Linked DNA regions of Homo sapiens: region 2 is linked to region 1. A link means that fine-mapping ties the variant in region 1 to the expression of a gene that starts in the linked region. Tissue or cell type: whole blood. Region 1 holds a variant in brackets; the other region holds the start of a gene. All regions are shown on one strand. Distances are between the middles of the regions.

Region 1 (8,101 bases):
GAATTTCCAGGTCAGTGTCTGCATTTTACATTCTTATAGATGAAGTCAAATTACCCTGTAAAGAGGCTATTCCAATTTACCTGCTCTTTGTATTAGTTCTTTTTTTGCTGACATAACAAATAACCACAAACCCAGTGGCCTAAAAGCACTGGCATTTACCGTGGGGCAGCGCCAGGGGTCAGAAGTCAGGAACAGGGGGCCCGGAAGGGGCTCCTCCCCTGAGCCTGCAGGTGGGAGCCCACCTTGTGAGGGCAGGATACAGATTCCCGGCCATCTGCCTACTTTAACAAGCACACACACACATACACACTCACACACCGTGTGCACACAGACACACAGATAAACATCCCACACACTTTCACACATGTGTGAACCTGCGCACACATACTCCACACTGCTCTGTTTCTCTTTTTCAAAACTTCTGAGTTACCATCAAGGACTGGTGCTTATAACACTAGTTTAGCTCAGCCAATCTCTTTCGTCACTACTATAGTTATCGAGCTACTTGTGTTTTCTATTTCTTCTGAAGTCAATTTTTAAACTTATATTCTCTCAGAAAATATGTTTGTTTAGATTTTTCTCTGAGTTTTACATAATATTTCCTTTTGTATATGTTCTTATCTTAAATTTGCCCTAATATACATTTCCAAATTACTTAAATTATTAATAGGTTTCTCTATTCTCTATTTTTATTTTCAACAAACCATCTGTGGCTTTCATTGATTAAATCTAGTATTTTGTTAACAAGGTCTAATTTTTGTTGACATTTTCTACTGTGTACATTTATTTTTAATCTTCGTTCTTCCTGCCATGTAATTGTCTTGGGTGAATATTCTTACTCTCTTACTAGTTTCTTGGGTTGGATGCTTAATATATTTATCATCAGCAAATTAAATAAGATAACGAATGTGAAAATATGTTGTTAAGTTTGAAATGTGAAGCACACAGGGGGCAGAGGTGGTGAGAGGTGCTTTGCGCCAGACCAGACCTTCCAGACTCAGGGCCCACACACCCCAGGGTTCACCCATTTTTCAGTAATCATGAATCAAATTTAACTGTCATTCGATCCTGACCAGAAGCAACAAAATGAATTCAGTTAACCGAACCTGTGGCTTTTCTACCAGAAGAAATCGCAGGCATTTCCAATCTTTTTGCAATTATTGAAGATATCTTAAAATACCATTTACAGTCATAACTTCAAAATTATGGTGGGTTTTAGACCCATCACCAGATTCTGTTTTATGCATTAATAAATTATATCATTACATCCGATCTTTAAAATTTTGATAACAGTATTTCATAGTTATTGCATTTTTATGTAAACTATGAAAACATTATTCTGAAAAAGGGTCCAGGGGTTTTGCCATATGAGCATATAAAGGATTAGAATCCCACCTGAGACCCTGGAATCCTTTGGCTTTTATAAGATGGGGGAGGCGCTGTGAAAGACCCCCACCTGACCACCATCTTGCCAGGACTTACGATGGGAGCAGCCCCTCGGGGAAGCGTGGGGCCACGGGCAGCACCCTGGCCCGATGCTCCCATCTGTCATGTGAAAGGAAATTAAATTCTGGGACCCCAGACTCATTAAGCCAGAGGGAAAAGTCAAGCTGGAAACTGGCTCGTGAAAACCTGCCTCGCACTTTTGGTTCCTAAATAAGACAGCTGCAAGATGAAAAGCCACCCGCCTCCCCGGTGTTGCCCTCATGGAAATTCCTAGCGCCGCAAGATCTCTGAAGGTGTTTCTGTTAAAATTTCTCCATGCATGTAAACGGAAGGCTTATCTTTACAGGTGCCGTCACCTTCCTGCCCGTCAGACACAAATGCATATCTGATTGCTCCCCTGCCCTGTTTGTCTGTGTTACGTAAAATACAGATTCCCTTGTTCTTCCTCTATGCCACTTGTCTATGTCGTCTTATGTAAAAAATGCAGATTCACTGAGCCAGACAAAGGCATGAATGTTTCTCCCTACCCGCCTCTTACATGAAAATTGTGTACTTCCCAGTATCTCGCCCTTTGCCTTTTAAATTTGGAGCCCTCAAAACCTCAAAATCATCTCCGGAGAATGGCATAGACCTGAATCCCAGGGATGTGTCCTGAACTTTGGCAAATAAACCTCCACAGATGATTGAGACTTGTCATTTTTCTCGACTGACATCTGGAGAGATCCTGAGTGAAGGTGACCCGGCCTGCAGCAGCTCACCTATCCGTGCTTGGCACCGGCTTGGGCACCTCACAGCCCAAACTGATAGGACGATTTGCCGAAGTCTGGGAGCCCTTTCCTCCAGGGATCCCTGATCTTCCAGGGTTTTTCATTTGGGGGTCTGGAATTTATTTGCTGTTTAAAAAAATTCCTTTTTGTGGGGGGGAGTTTCCACTGGCTTCCATCAAGGAAGGCGAGCTCGTCTGCGTCTGCATCAGTGGTCTTCAGCTGTGGCCCCATCACTAGGAAAGAAACTGGTTTGGGGTTCTGTCTTGCAAATTCTTTTTAAATGACTAAAGTTAGCATTAACACATTAACAGCTGGTATTCATTTCTGCTTACACTGAGAGCGCTCAGAAATCGTATAATTTGCGTGATCATTGTTAGTTTTGCATCGCTGTGTTGTTGCTTGTTTCTGTCTTGTTGGGTTTGTGTGTGTGTGTGTGTGGGTGTGTGGGTGTCTGTGTGTGGGTGTGTGTGGGTGTGTGGGTGTTGGGTGTGTGTGTCGTGTGTGTGTGTGTGTTGGGTTTGTGTGGGGGGTGTGTGTGTGTGGGTGTGTGTGGGTGTGTGGGTGTGTGTTGGGTTTGTGTGTGTGCACTTCATCCCATAGCTCCTGCCACGTTTGTCCTCTTCTGTGAAGTGTCTTCAAAGCTCTCATGCCCCTCTCGGCCTGCGCTGCCACCTGCCTCTGGTTGGTTTCCACACATTCCCTGCAGGTCCCGGACAGAGTCGCTCGCAGCCGAGTCTCTGCAGACGTTTCTCCCACTCTATGCTCCCTTCTCATGCCCTTTGAACTTTTGATGATTTTCTAATCTTAGTTCTAATACAGTTCTGTTCATCATTCCCTTTGCCATCTTGTTTTTGGGTTTGGGGGTCTTTGTCCTGTTTAAGAAACGTTTCCCTACCTCAGGGTCACGCATAGCCATGGGAAGGCAGCAGTCACAGCGAACACGCTCCTGGGAAGTGCATTTCCACGTGAAGATGGGGTGATTGGGAGGCCGAGGAGGCAGAGCAAACAGACGCTTCTGTGCTTCGGAAGCAGTCCCCAAATCAGTCTCTAGAGCGATCCGGGCAACACCACTCGGCTCTGTGACGTTTCCATTGTTCCTAACATCCCCCGAGTCTGCAGAAATGTATGTATTTCTTCCCCTAGAAAGTAGGTGATTTATTTCCTTATAACAACTAATTGCATGTGAAGCAGCATCTAGAAACATGATGAGTTGGATAAAAAGGGAATCAACGGAGAAACCAGGGTCAAGGGAGACACCTTGAGGCGGGAGGTGCTGGCCGTCTGGAGTGGGTGGTGTCTGATTTTTGCATGGATGAAACCCAGATTATTTAGAATGCTGTCAATACTCAGACTATTTACAAAGACATTTTTCAGGGCATCTGTCTCAGGATATTAATTGGATTTTCACAAAAATAGAGATGCATTCTGTTATCAAATACATTTGACAAATATAGAGTTAGAGAGAAATAGGTTCTCACCTGGTCCCAGAACCCATTTTTTCTGGGACCCCTGAGAGAACTGATACGACACTGTATGTGCTATTTTCTAGATCGACAATCATAATTAAAGCAATAAAGCCTGGCATTCCTGCAGGCAAGGCCCTGCTTCTGTGCTGAACACACAACCCCTGAGCTCCCTCGATCCCCG[C/A]TTCACAGAGGGAGAACCAGGGGCCAGGCCAACCCTAACCAGGCCACCAGGTTCCAGGACACAATTCCTTGCAAAAGTGCTTTGGGTCAAAATTGGCTCAAAATTGGCGGCCATATGCTGAGTTTCAGGCCACGTGTTCTGACAAGTCTCTGCTGGGCACTCAGCTCCGTCCACCCCCGTCCTCACAGTGACCCGGAGAGGGCAAGGGCAACGTCCTCTTATCAAAAGAAAGGTCCTGGTGTTAGGAAGGCAGGAGCCCAGGAGAGCCAGAATCACACCATTTTAAAATCCACTCGCCGGACACAGTCATGACCCCCGGTCCTAAGATGTTCACAGCTAAAGAGGCAGCTTGGTGACGCCTGCAAAAACACACTCCTCCAACAACAGAGTCCAGACGTCCAGAACCCCAGCAATGTGTGCTGTTAAGATCATTCCAGTTATGCTTTGATGGACTCACACACGAAAATGTCAAGGACAGTTTTCCTTACATAGAATAAGAAAATATCATGCTCTCTGCTCACCTACATGTAGGCACAGCTTGGCTTGGTCTTTCCACAGACGAGACCCCTATATAAGAAAAACCTAAAGCTGGGGCGTTGCTTCTCTTGCTTTCTGAGGGTGCCCTATCTGCAATGAAGTAGTTTTCAATAAACTTCCTTCTCTCACTGCACTCTGCAACTCGCCTGGAATTTCTTCCCACGAGAGATCCAAAGCCCTCTCTTGGGGTCTTGATTGAGACCCTTTTTCCAGTAACACTGAGGCTCCATTTCCAGTCATGGCAAAGCAGCTCATGTCAGTCCAACACACCACCTACATCCCCTGGACAGATACAGGCACCAACCACCAGAAGGTACCGGGCACAGCCGGAAGCAGAAAGAGACTGAACAGGCGTCCGTACTCGGAGGAAAGCCGTGGCGCCAGGCAGATTTCCTTTTGTAAGGCATTCCACTCGAGAGCAGCTGGCCCACGCAGGGGAGCAAAGCCTCGGGTAGGAAACCACCGTCCCTCCGGCATGAGGACCCAGAGAGCAACGGGGTGACTGTGGCAGCCAGGGAGGAAAGAGGAGTTCCTGGAAAGGACAGAGCCAGAGGGGACCCCAAAATCTGCATTTCACTCTGCCTAGATCTCCTGGAGACCTGGCCCACACGTGTGCAGGACTTTGTGCCGCCTGAAAAGAACCGATGAGCGGCACCAATGGTGCCACCGTAGGGGACAGAGCCTAGCGTCTGCCCGACTAAGCAAAACAGAAATCTGTCTGACAGCCTGGGGACCGGAAGTCTGAGGTCAGGCATCGGCAGGGTCAGTTCCTGCGGAGATGTGAAAGGGAATCTGCTCCCGGCCATGCCCCAGCAACCCTCTGTGTTGCTTTTGATGGGGTTCGGGACACGCTACCCCAAAGTATGGCACCTTGGCACTGTGAAAACAGCAGAAGCAGGAAGGTCTCTCTCACCTCCCCTCAGCCTTCTCCCCTACAGCAGGTCCCCAAGACCCTGATGTGAGACGCCCTCCCGAAACCCGGGGAAAAGACACGCCCTTCTCTCTGAAGATACAGGACACAGAGAACTGGTGTTGACAGCTGACGTGATGACAGTTCTCGTCTTCTCAGTTCAAAAGAATTTAAACAAGAGACACACTGCAAAAGAAGTGCAGCACAGAGTAACTTATTGCAAAAGAAGAAAAGTATTTTGCAGGGGCTCACGCCTGTAATCCTAGCATTTTAGGAGGCCGAGGTGGGCGGATTACTTGAGGTCAGGAGTTTGAGACCAGCCTGGCCAATATGGTGAAACCCCATCTCTAATAAAAATAGAAAAATTAGCCAAGCATGGTAGCAAGCGCCTGTAATCCCAGCTACTTGGGAGGCTGAGGCGGGAGAATCACTCAAATCCGGGAGGCAGAGGTTGCAGGGAGCCAAGATCATACCACTGCACTCCAGCCTGGGCAACAAGAGCAAAACTCTGTCTTTAAAAAAAAAAAAAAGAGTATTTTGAAAGTGAGGTGCAGAATAGACAGGCCACCCTAAGGGAGAAAGGACTCAGGGTGGGTCATGAGGGTGAGACAGCAGAGACCGGCCATAGGGAGGCTGCCTTTATGGGAGTCTCACCCGATGATCCATAAGAAGATGGGAGAGGTAGCCGGGCATGGGGGCTCATGCCTGTAATCTCAGCACTTTGGGAGGCCAAGGCGAGTGGATCATCTGAGGTCGGGAGTTCAAGACCAGCCTGACCAACATGGAGAAACCTCGTCTCTACTAAAAAAAAATACAAAATTAGCTGGGCATGGTGGCGCATGCCTATAATCCCAGCTACTCAGGAGGCTGAGGCAGGAGAATCGCTTGAACCTGGGAGGCAGAGGCTGTGGTGAGCTGAGATCTCACCACTGCACTCCAGACTGGGGATAGATCTAGACCCCACCTTAAAAAAAAAAGAAAGTGGGAGAGGTGTTATCAGGAAGCACAGTCTGGTGGTCGTCGGCACACATGCTTGTTTGTAGGTGGTGTGTCTCATTAGCATCTTACATCTCCACCCAGGGGTATCTTTTTCACTGTTATAATGAACAAAGGGTTGGTTCGAGGACAGGTAAAAATTAAAGTGTGCGTGCTCTTTAGAAGAGAGTCCCCGCTGGAGATAGCTTTGCTTGCGTGAGCTCAATTACAAAGCAAACACTGAGGTTTAGGTGGTGGCTGTGTATAGTCAACACAGTCATTTCCCTGCTCACCTATCCCCTCTCCCCCGGGCACACAGGCCGTGCTGAGGTGCCCAGTTCACCCATCACATCACAGCCTCCCGTCCTCATCCACGTTTCCCCACGGCCATCCCCTCTTCATCAAGCCAAAGCACAAACACACAGGTCCACCTGGCTCTGGGTCTTCATTTCCTTACGAAGGCTCCAAGTCACATAAAACTAAAATACATTTGTTCGCTTTTCTCTGGTGAATCCGTCTTGTTTCAGGAGCCTCAACCCTGAACCTTTTCTCTCTGCACTTGGAGTGTAGACGCGTCCCTTCTTCTCTCCCTCCGGCTTCACCGTACCTTCCCTGTGTGTCTGTGCACACATTTCCCCTTCTTAAAAGCATGCTGGTCATTGGATTTAGGGCCCACCCTAATCCATCATGAGGTCATCCTAATGCATAACATCTGCAATAACCCATTTCCAAAAATGTCTGTGTTCACAGGTTAGGGCTTGAACATATTTCCTAAGGACACTATTCAGCCCTCCACAAACACCAGCAGCAGACTAAGCCACGTTCAGGTCGTGTTGAGGTGGGAAATTAAAGAAAAATAAAATTAAAAAGAAAGAGAAATAAGCTTTCCCGTATTAGGCTAACTTGTCCTAGAGGCAGCAACAAGCACAGCCCAAACCCAGGAAAAGTCTTAATAATAATATTATCTAATGTGCTCTGGAGACTCTCCCAGCACTCCCTCAATATAGGGAGAAGAAAAACAAATTTTCCTTTGTTTTATGGAATGAGTTTATAAATTCCTGTTCTCTGTAACTATTGACTTCAAGCATTGTTTTATCTAAGCAGTAAAGTGAAGGTCATGAGCCTCTGAGCAGGCCTGAGTTACGGCCACCTGGGCAACATAGTGAAGGTTATGGGATAAGCCCGTGCCCAGGTTAACCTAGATAACGGACATGTGGGTTGCTTGGCAACAGTCATGTGCAATCCTGAGTTTGTCCTGCCTCTGTATCCCTGCTTTCACGCCACTGTAAGCTTGCTTCAAGCTAGCCCACCCCCTTTTGTGAAGTGTGTGTAAAAGTCAGGCGCTGTCTTTGTTCTGGGCCCAGTCTTTGGACATTGAGTCTGCTGGGTCTGAGTGCACTCAATGATAAAGATATCCTCCTGTGTACACTCCAAGGTCTCTCTCCGGTCCTCCTGATCCTGCAACAGTGCTAGGTCTCCCTAAAGGCCATCGGGCCCCTGGGTGGACCTTGGAGTCTTGCTCATTATCTCAGCCATGCTGTGCACATGACTGTAGTCCCAGCCTGGCCCACCCTGGGATGACAGGAGCTTCCCCCGGCGGTCCGTTTCCTGCACTGGCCCCCCCACAGGGATGTCTCCCAGGGCTGCCTGGACACGTCTTCACATTGGCTGAGGGGTCCCTCAAGGGCAACCAGACATGGCTTCTAGTCTAGTACCTGTTCTTCCCTCACAACATGAGTGAAGGATTTTAAACCTTCAAAGCCATATTTGCACTTACCTAACCCCTTAATCCTTTTCCTTCCGTCCCCCGTCCTGGAAG
Region 2 (8,085 bases), 28 kb after region 1:
CTACAGGGCGAATGTGCAGTGAAGGGCTCTGGGGTTCCAAAAGCTGTGGGGGGCTTCTGTGGCACAGCCCCTGTGGAGACTCAGGCACCTTCCTGGAGGCAGACCCAGAGCAAAGCTCTGCCTTAATCCTCCAAGATCTTTCTCAGGCCAACTCCAGTTCAACAAGGGACCTGACTTCTAGTTCACGGGGTTGTCCTGAGTGTTACAGAGAACGCGCATGTGAAAGAGAGGTGGAGTGCACACGTGCAAACAACATGCCCTGCACCCCGCAGCAGCCAGGTCTGTGCAGAGAAGCCTGGAGGACAACGTGGCTGGCATGGGCTGCTCCCAAGATGATAGACAGATGGACTGGAGCCAGGACCCTCACAGAGTATTTAGGGGGGTGGTGGCTGCACGGACAGCAGCTCTTCCAATACAACTCGGAGGCTTCATTTCTGCCTCACATGGGGTTTTGTTGCATCTCTCTGAAGGTCCTCTCGTTAAAGACCAGCACCCGCGTAACCCGTCCACAGCCTGCAGCCCTGCACAGAGGCTCAGACTCCTCGAAACCCCAGATGCTCCCCACCACCCGAGCTCCCACCTGCTGTAGGCAGTTAAACCACTCAAACTTCACTTACAGGATTATCCAGCTGAACACCCAGGCTGTACTGCTTAAGGGCTGCAGCCTTGAAAGACACACTCAAAATTACAGCCTCAGAAAGCACGCACTGCAGGGAAAGGCACTCAATAGAACATGCTGAGTGGTGCAATCCACCCTGGGGCCCCCAGAGGAGTCTGCATTTCTCTCCCCGTGAGCTCTTTAATGGTGCACACACAGCACCCAGCACGGAGGGGCTAATTGATTAGCTGTCTCTGCAGCACATGCTGCTGGCGCCATGGCTCACAGCAATTCCACGCTTACACTCACAGCCTGTTTCTCTGCTGTTGGAGCTCTGGTGGGCTGCAGGCTTCACTGCCACAACACACGGGACCCGGTGTCCACCTGCCACCTCCCCACCTGGGGCGCCTCTGGGCTGCTAGGCTGGTAAGAGGTCACCCCTGCCGTGACAGGGTAGCCAGTGCTGGACCTGCGTTCCTCCAGCAAATGGCTGTGAAACTGGACAAATACAGGGCCACTGTGATGGAGCCAACTGTGAGCCATGCTTCCCACCCTCCCCCTCCCACTCTGCCACCATAGGAGGCAGAGCTCGGGGAAACAAGGGCGCAGTGAGAGGAGGGCATAGCACCAGGGCTGGGGTTGGCCTGGGACAACAGAGAAGGAGCTGTGTGGATGCCGGACAGGGGAGATGGGGAGGAAAGTGACCATGGCTCACAGCGGCCTCAACCTCCTGGGCTCCAGGGATCCCCCTGCCTCAGCCTCCCGAGCAGCTGAAACTACAGGTGCACACCACCATGCTCGGCTAGTTTGCTTTCTTTTTAATAGACGAGGTATCACTGTGTTTCCGAAAGCAGTCTCGAACTCCTAAGTTCAAGCAATCCTCCTGCCTCTGCCTCCTAAAATTTGGGCATCACAAACATGAGCCACCACACCCAACTGACAGTTAATTTCTTAAAAAGTTAACTTTAATTTATTCAAAAGATTGTCTAAAGCAAAAGTAGCATTGTGTTACGGAGTTTGTAATGTAGGTAGAGGTTAAACATATGGCAACTGTAACAGGAAGAACAGGGTTAGAGGAATTACACCGTTACAAGTTTCCCACATTTTGTGTGAGGTGAATAGGCTGATAAATTAAGGATTCATTTTGTTGTCTTTAGGGTAACTACTAAAAATGGTAATACCAAGAGGCACAGCTAAAAGACCAACAGAGGTGTAAAACGAAGTACTAAAAAATTTCAATTAACCCAAAAAAGGCAGGAATGGAGGAACAAAGGAACAAAAAAATGACAAATAAAAAACAAATGACAAGATAAGACACTTAGAAAACAAGTAGCAAGATGGGGGATCTACAGCAACCTCATCAATCATTACTGGAATTGCAAATGGAGAAACTCCATGTGCAAAGCAGGGATTGTCACCAAGACCCAACTCCATCTACAGACACCCACGTAAGATACAAAGACAGGTTGGGTGTCTAAAGGATAGAAAAAGATCCACAGTGGTCCAGGAGTGGTCCCAGCATTGTGGTAGGCACAAGAGTGAGGATCACTTGAGTCTTAGAGTTTGACCTGTAATCCAAGCACTTTGGGAGGCTGAGGCAGGCAGATCACCTGAGGTCAAGAGTTCCAGACCAGCCTGGCCAACACGGTGAAACCCTGTCTCTACTAAAAATACGAAAAAAATTAGCCAGGCATGGTGGTTTGTGCCTGTAATCCCAGCTACTGGAGAGGCTGAGGCAGGAGAATTGCCTGAACCCAGGAGGCAGAGGTTGCAGCGAGCCAAGATCGCGCCACTGCACTCCAGCCTGGGCAACAAGAGTGAAACTCCATCTCAAAAAAAAAAAAAAGGAGTTTGAAAAATACAAAAAAAAAATTAGCCTGGTGTGGTGGTGCACACCTGTGGTCTCAGCTACTCTGGAGGCTGAGGTGGAAGGATCACTTGAGCCCAGGAGGTCGAGGCTGTGGTGAGCCAAGATGGCACCACTGCACTCCAGCCCGGGCAACAGAGTGAGACCCTGTCTCAAAAAAAAAAAAAAAAAGGAAAAAAGTGGCCAGGCACGGTGGCTCATGCCTGTAATCCCAGCACTTTGGGAGGCCAAGGTGGGCAGGATCACAACGTCAGGATATAAAGACCATCCTGGCTAACACGGTGAAACCCCGTCTCTACTAAAAAAAATACAAAAAAATTAGCCAGGCGTGGTGGCGGGTGCCTGTGGTCCCAGCTACTCGGGAGGCTAAGGCAGGAGAATGGCGTGAACCCGAGAGGTGGAGCTTGCAGCGAGCCAAGATCGCGCCACTGCACTCCAGCTTGGGCAATGGAGCAAGACTCTGTCTGAAAAAGAAAAAAAAAAGAAAAAAGAATAGAAAAAGGAAAAGATACACAGTGCCAATTCTGTGCATAAGAAAATAGCCCTGGAACACTCACATTAGACCAGGTAGCACCCCTGAAGATAAAGAGGGACATTCCATGATGACACCATGGTCAGCCACTGTCAGGATCACAGAAAAATCCTAAATGCCTAAAAAGATAATAACAGTTTCAAAAAACACGAAGTAAAAACGGACGGAACTGAAAGAATAGAGAAATTCACTGTCCTAGTTGGAGATGTAACAGCTCTCTCGGGACTGCAAGCACAGCGGGTGGGACAGGAAGGATTCGCCGGTTTAAAGAGCACTGTCAACCAGCTGCACCTCATTAACTCTTGGCGAGCATCCCACCCCACAGCTGCAGAACACAAGTAATTTTTGAGTGTATACGGAGCATTTACAAAGATAGGGCTTATGTTAAACAGTAAGAATAAGTCTCTGTAATTTTAAAAAGTGAGATCCTGCAGTTTGTTCCTTGATCAAAATGGAATTAAATCAGTAATAGCAAGATTCCTTTTAGACTCTCCACATATTTGGAAAGTGGGCAATACTCTTCTAAATATGCTTCTCAGAATAGAGGGTTTAAAAAATAAATACACACATAAAGAGATTCTTCTAAATAAAGCATGGGTCAAAGAAGAAATCCAAAGAAAATTAGCACTTATTTCAAATATCCATCAAAATATTACACAAAAATTGTAGCATAGTCTTAGAGGAAGATTTGTGACTTTAAATACTGACGACATTTCAACAAAGAAGGTACACAGTGATCAATACACTCATGAAAGGGTGTTCAACTCACCCGTCACAAGGAAATGCAAACTAACGCCTCACTGAGATCTGCCAAACTTCTGGTGCCGACTGTGACCTGGCCGCGCCTGCGGGGGGCAGAGGAGAGAAGGAGACTGGGGGTGAGGTCCACGTGTCCCAGGCAGGGGGACAGAGGCCAGAAGAAAGTGGCTGCGGGTGAGATCCACATGTCCCAGCCAGGGACGGAGAGGAGGGAGAACCGGACAGCAGCATCTGCTTCCAGCCACGTCACGTGTTTGGAGAGGCGGTGTCACCTCAGTGTGAGGAATGGCCACTCAGGACACGTCTGGACTTCCTCCCAGCCACCTCTCACCAGGGATCAGAATCCCGGCCCCGGGGACCCTCGACCCATAAACATCTTGGGCCTACAGCACCACCAAGCACGCCACAGCCTTGGCCTGGGGCTGCTTCAGAGACACCGCACGGAGGGCTTCTCACTTCCCCAGCCAGGAGCCACCCACGCTGCACCCGGGGAGGCCCCAGTTGCATCTGTCCCACCTTTCAGACCGAGCCAGCCAGAGGCGCCCAGAAAGACTATGCCAGGCCTCAGCTGTGTTGAAACCCAGGTTGGGGACAGTGGCAGGACCTGTGCCAGCGTCTGCCCTTGCTCCTGGCTGGATTCAGTTACTTGGCTGGGCCCCAGTGAAGGCGCAGAGGGCACCACCACCTGCACAGGAAGGGAAGGAAGCCCACAGCAGAGCCAGCACACGTGTGGCCACGCCCCGGCCCAGCCCCCCCTCACACGTGGCCACACCCCCTGCCCAGCCCCCTTACATGTGGCCACACCTCCGATCAGCCCCCTTCCACACGTGGTCACGCCCCCTGTTCAGCCTCCTCGCACATGACCACGCCCCCGTCCAGCCCCCGCACACAGGGCCACTCCTCTAGCCCAGCCCCTCACACGCGTGACCACGCCCCTTAGTCTCCTCGCTCGTGGCCACGCCCCCTGCACGGCCCCCTCGCGCGTGGCCACACCCCTGTCCAGCCACACACACACACACACACACACACACACACACACACACACACACACGCTGGGCCACGCCCCTACCCAGCCCCCTCACACGTATGGGCACGCCCCTGCTCAGCGCCCTCACACGCATGGCCACCCCCCGTCCAGCCCCTTAACGCGTGCTGCCCCGTGCCCACCTACAGCGGCCTCCTCCGCACCAGGGCTGACCCAGTGTGGGGTCCAGGTGGGCTCTGGTAGGCCCCCGGGCAGAGCTGTGCCCCGCGTCACTGAGGATGCACAGAGAAAAAGGAAGGGGCGGAGGAAGCGGAAACCCGAGCAGCGCTGCCTGGGCGTGGCAAGCCCGCTAGTTTTCCCGCCCGCTCATCTGCTTTCCCTCCCTCCATAATAAGTGTGGCACCTGGAGTGTGTGACTTTCATGATTTTCTTTTAGGAGAAACATAACGCAGTCCTCTGTCCCGCCCCTCCTGCAGGGAATGGTCATGGGGGCGTAGTTAACCCCATGCGTGCGGAGGTACACCTTGGAGCCCAGCGCCGACACAGGTCAGGAGAGTGTTAGCCACTGCTGAATGACTCCTGTTGTGTGCAAAATTGTTTTGACTTTTAAAGACTACACACAACCCATTCTGCCATTATTTAGGGTGAATTATACTGCTGGGTCACAAGAAGAAGACGTGGCTCCTCTTGATGCTGAGGGAGGCCTGGAAGTCATTGCTGGGAGCTTGGGAAGAGGGCTCCCCGAGGCAGAGCCTCCCAGGGGACAGAGGCGGCCCAGCGATGACCTGGGAGGTGAGCACAGGTGTGCGGGGCCCCTCGGGGCCCACCATAAGGCCCCACAGCAGGCCCTAACCTCCCCCATGTGTCCTAAGGCAGTTCCATTTGCATTGGCAATGGTCATTTCACTACTTCTGACCTGGAAGCGAGGTATATGTTTGGAGGTGACACGAGGCTCCCAAAGGGGTGCTATAGGGCGCCTTTTCTTATTTTATAAAACTTACATCGAAATGAGCCGCACCCTGAGGGGCAGCCCACCTGCTCACCCCTGGAGGGACTCTCCCAGGGCTGAGGGTCTTCCCCAGATGCTTCACCCGGGCTCCTCCAAGTGTGGGGTGGCCTTCAGTCTGCTGCGAAGAGGATGTGGGGTGTCTGGCAGCCACTCTGCTCTGGATTTGCGGGAACCTCTGCTGCCTCCCTGGTGCCCCTTGATTGGCGCTGGGTCTAGGAACCCCCTCTGGGTTGGAACTGGACTTGAAAAGGTCATTTTCTGCCTGCACCCACCAAGGCCACCTGGGGCTGTGGAGCCAGGAAACCCCTGTCACTCTCCTCAGATGCTGGCCCGAGGGCACCCTCAGTCTCCCTGAGTCCAAATCACCTTTTCTTCCCAAATGACCCAGCAGCCTAGGCCAGCCCCAGCTGGAAAGACTGCTCCCCTCTCTCCTCCGCTCTGCTCCCCTGCCCTCTCTTCCCCTCCCCTCCCTTCCTTTCTTCTGCTGGCGGAAGTCCTGTGCCAATCCCACATCCACATCCGTCACTGCACTCCTGGATCACACCTGGACAGACACAGAACTAGTCCTGGGAGTGATCCCAGGGCCAGGACCCTAGTAATGAGTTATCTAAATGTCTCTGGGTGTCTGGAATTGGTTCTCTGCTCCAACTAGCTTTAAAGGCATTCACGCTCTGTTCCCAGGGGTACCAGGGTGCTAGCTGCCCACAGGAGTAGCATACAGGCACTCAGATTGCCACCTGCAGACATCTGTAATCAAATGGCCATAGGATGCCTGGCCCTGGGCATCAAGGGAAAAATTTAGGGGTGTAGCTGGGTGGGCGGATGCTTCTAAGTGTGCTGGAGAACTTGGGGAAAAAGAGAAAGGCCTCCAATTTAGCCCCCAAAGTCCCAGGCAAACAGGGACACTTGCCATAACAGGTGGAGACATTCCCCAAAGGCTGGGAGGCAGAGTGGAGGCATCGCCAGGACCCCAGCCCTCTGCTGCCTCTCCTGTACAGAGGTACAAAGTCCCAGGCCCCAGAAGGAAAGGGAAGGAGATCCCCGAACCTCTGCTCCAGCTAGGACCTCACTGAGGCCCAGGTGGTGTGACCCTCCACCTACCAGCCAGCCCGGGGCCCGGATCACAGCGTGGCCACTCCTCCTGGGGACTTCCCTGGCCTCCCGCTCCCCTCGCCAAAGCTGCGGGTGAAGCAGCTCTAGCCCACCCTAGCTAGCCATTGTCCAAGGCCAAGGCCCGCCTGTCCACCTGAATACCCAGGGTCCAGGGTAACCAACCTGATCCTAACCCAACCCTGCAACAGGTAGCTACATAAATCAGCACAGACCCTACCCCACCCCCAGACACTTAGAGAGGCATTCGCTTTATCCACCACAGGGTGATGGGAGCTGCTGTCAGAGTTCTCGCCAGACCCTCCCAGGGAACCCCAGACTTGGTTTCAGCAGGAACCACATGTGACCCTGGATGAGCTGACCCCCATCACTAGGAAATGTACCTTAAGTCAGAAAAGTATTCACACTTTGAGTCCCCTCAACTTTGGCTGAACTAATAGCAATTACATTAAAAATGTGTCTGCCCTTCATCTTCTTTGACTTTGATATTAAATATCTCTACTAATAACTCAGTTGCCTAAAGTCGTTACTGCTACCTCATATTTAATTAGGCCCAACCTGGCCACTCCAACCATATAGGAGACTCAGGCAAGAGCTCAGATGTAGGCTCAGGTTAAAGTTCCAGTGTGGATTCAGGTGTGGGCCCAGGTGCAGCCTCAGGTGTAGTCTCGGGTGAGGGCTTAGGTGCAGCCTCAGGTGTAAGCTCAGGTTAAAGTTCCAGTGTGGGCCCAGGTGCAACCTCAGATGAGAGCTCAGGTGTGGGCTCAGGTGCAGCCTCAGACGAGAGCTCAGGTGTGGGATCAGGTGCAGCCTCAGACGAGAGCTCAGGTGTGGGCTCAGGTGCAGCCTCAGACGAGAGCTCAGGGGAGGGCTCAGGTGCAACCTCAGATGAGGGCTCAGGTGTGGGCTCAGGTGCAGCCTCAGATGAGAGCTCAGGTGTGGGCTCAGGTGCAGCCTCAGATGAGGGCTCAGGTGTGGGCTCAGGGTGAGAGTTCAGCTTGCTGCTTGGCATGTGAACCCCAGGCCTACCCTTGGCTTTTGAGCTAGTGTCTGTGCCTGGGCTTTCCCGCGACCATGGCGGTGCATTCAGCACTCACAGTACCGCATTTGCCTTCACAGCGGTGAGTGCACGCATTGCCTTAGCTCCCATTTTTACTAGTGAATGTAACAATTAATTAAATAAATACAATTACTAATGAAACCAATGGTAACAATGCTGATGATG

What was found. PIP is the estimated chance that this variant, and not a neighbour inherited with it, causes the effect.
Region 2: LINC01237 starts here. The variant in region 1 is fine-mapped to the expression of LINC01237 in whole blood (TOPMed, PIP above 0.99).

Annotation. Positions count from the first base shown.
Region 1 is chr2:241,905,905-241,914,005 of GRCh38, reverse strand. The region is part of intron 2 of LINC01237 (long intergenic non-protein coding RNA 1237); the gene reads right to left. Among named protein-coding and RNA genes, the nearest start is that of FAM240C, 9.5 kb to the right of the region's middle. The variant C/A (reference allele first, on the strand shown) is at 3,861.
Region 2 is chr2:241,878,317-241,886,401 of GRCh38, reverse strand. It overlaps LINC01237 (long intergenic non-protein coding RNA 1237), which reads right to left and starts at 5,039. Exons shown (of 4, transcript NR_110220.1): 1 at 4,924-5,039; 2 at 3,767-3,842. It overlaps LOC105373978 (a long non-coding RNA gene), which reads left to right and starts at 5,075. Exons shown (of 3, transcript XR_924077.3): 1 at 5,075-5,287; 2 at 5,385-5,533; 3 at 7,126-7,368. RefSeq lists an enhancer at 5,019-5,609.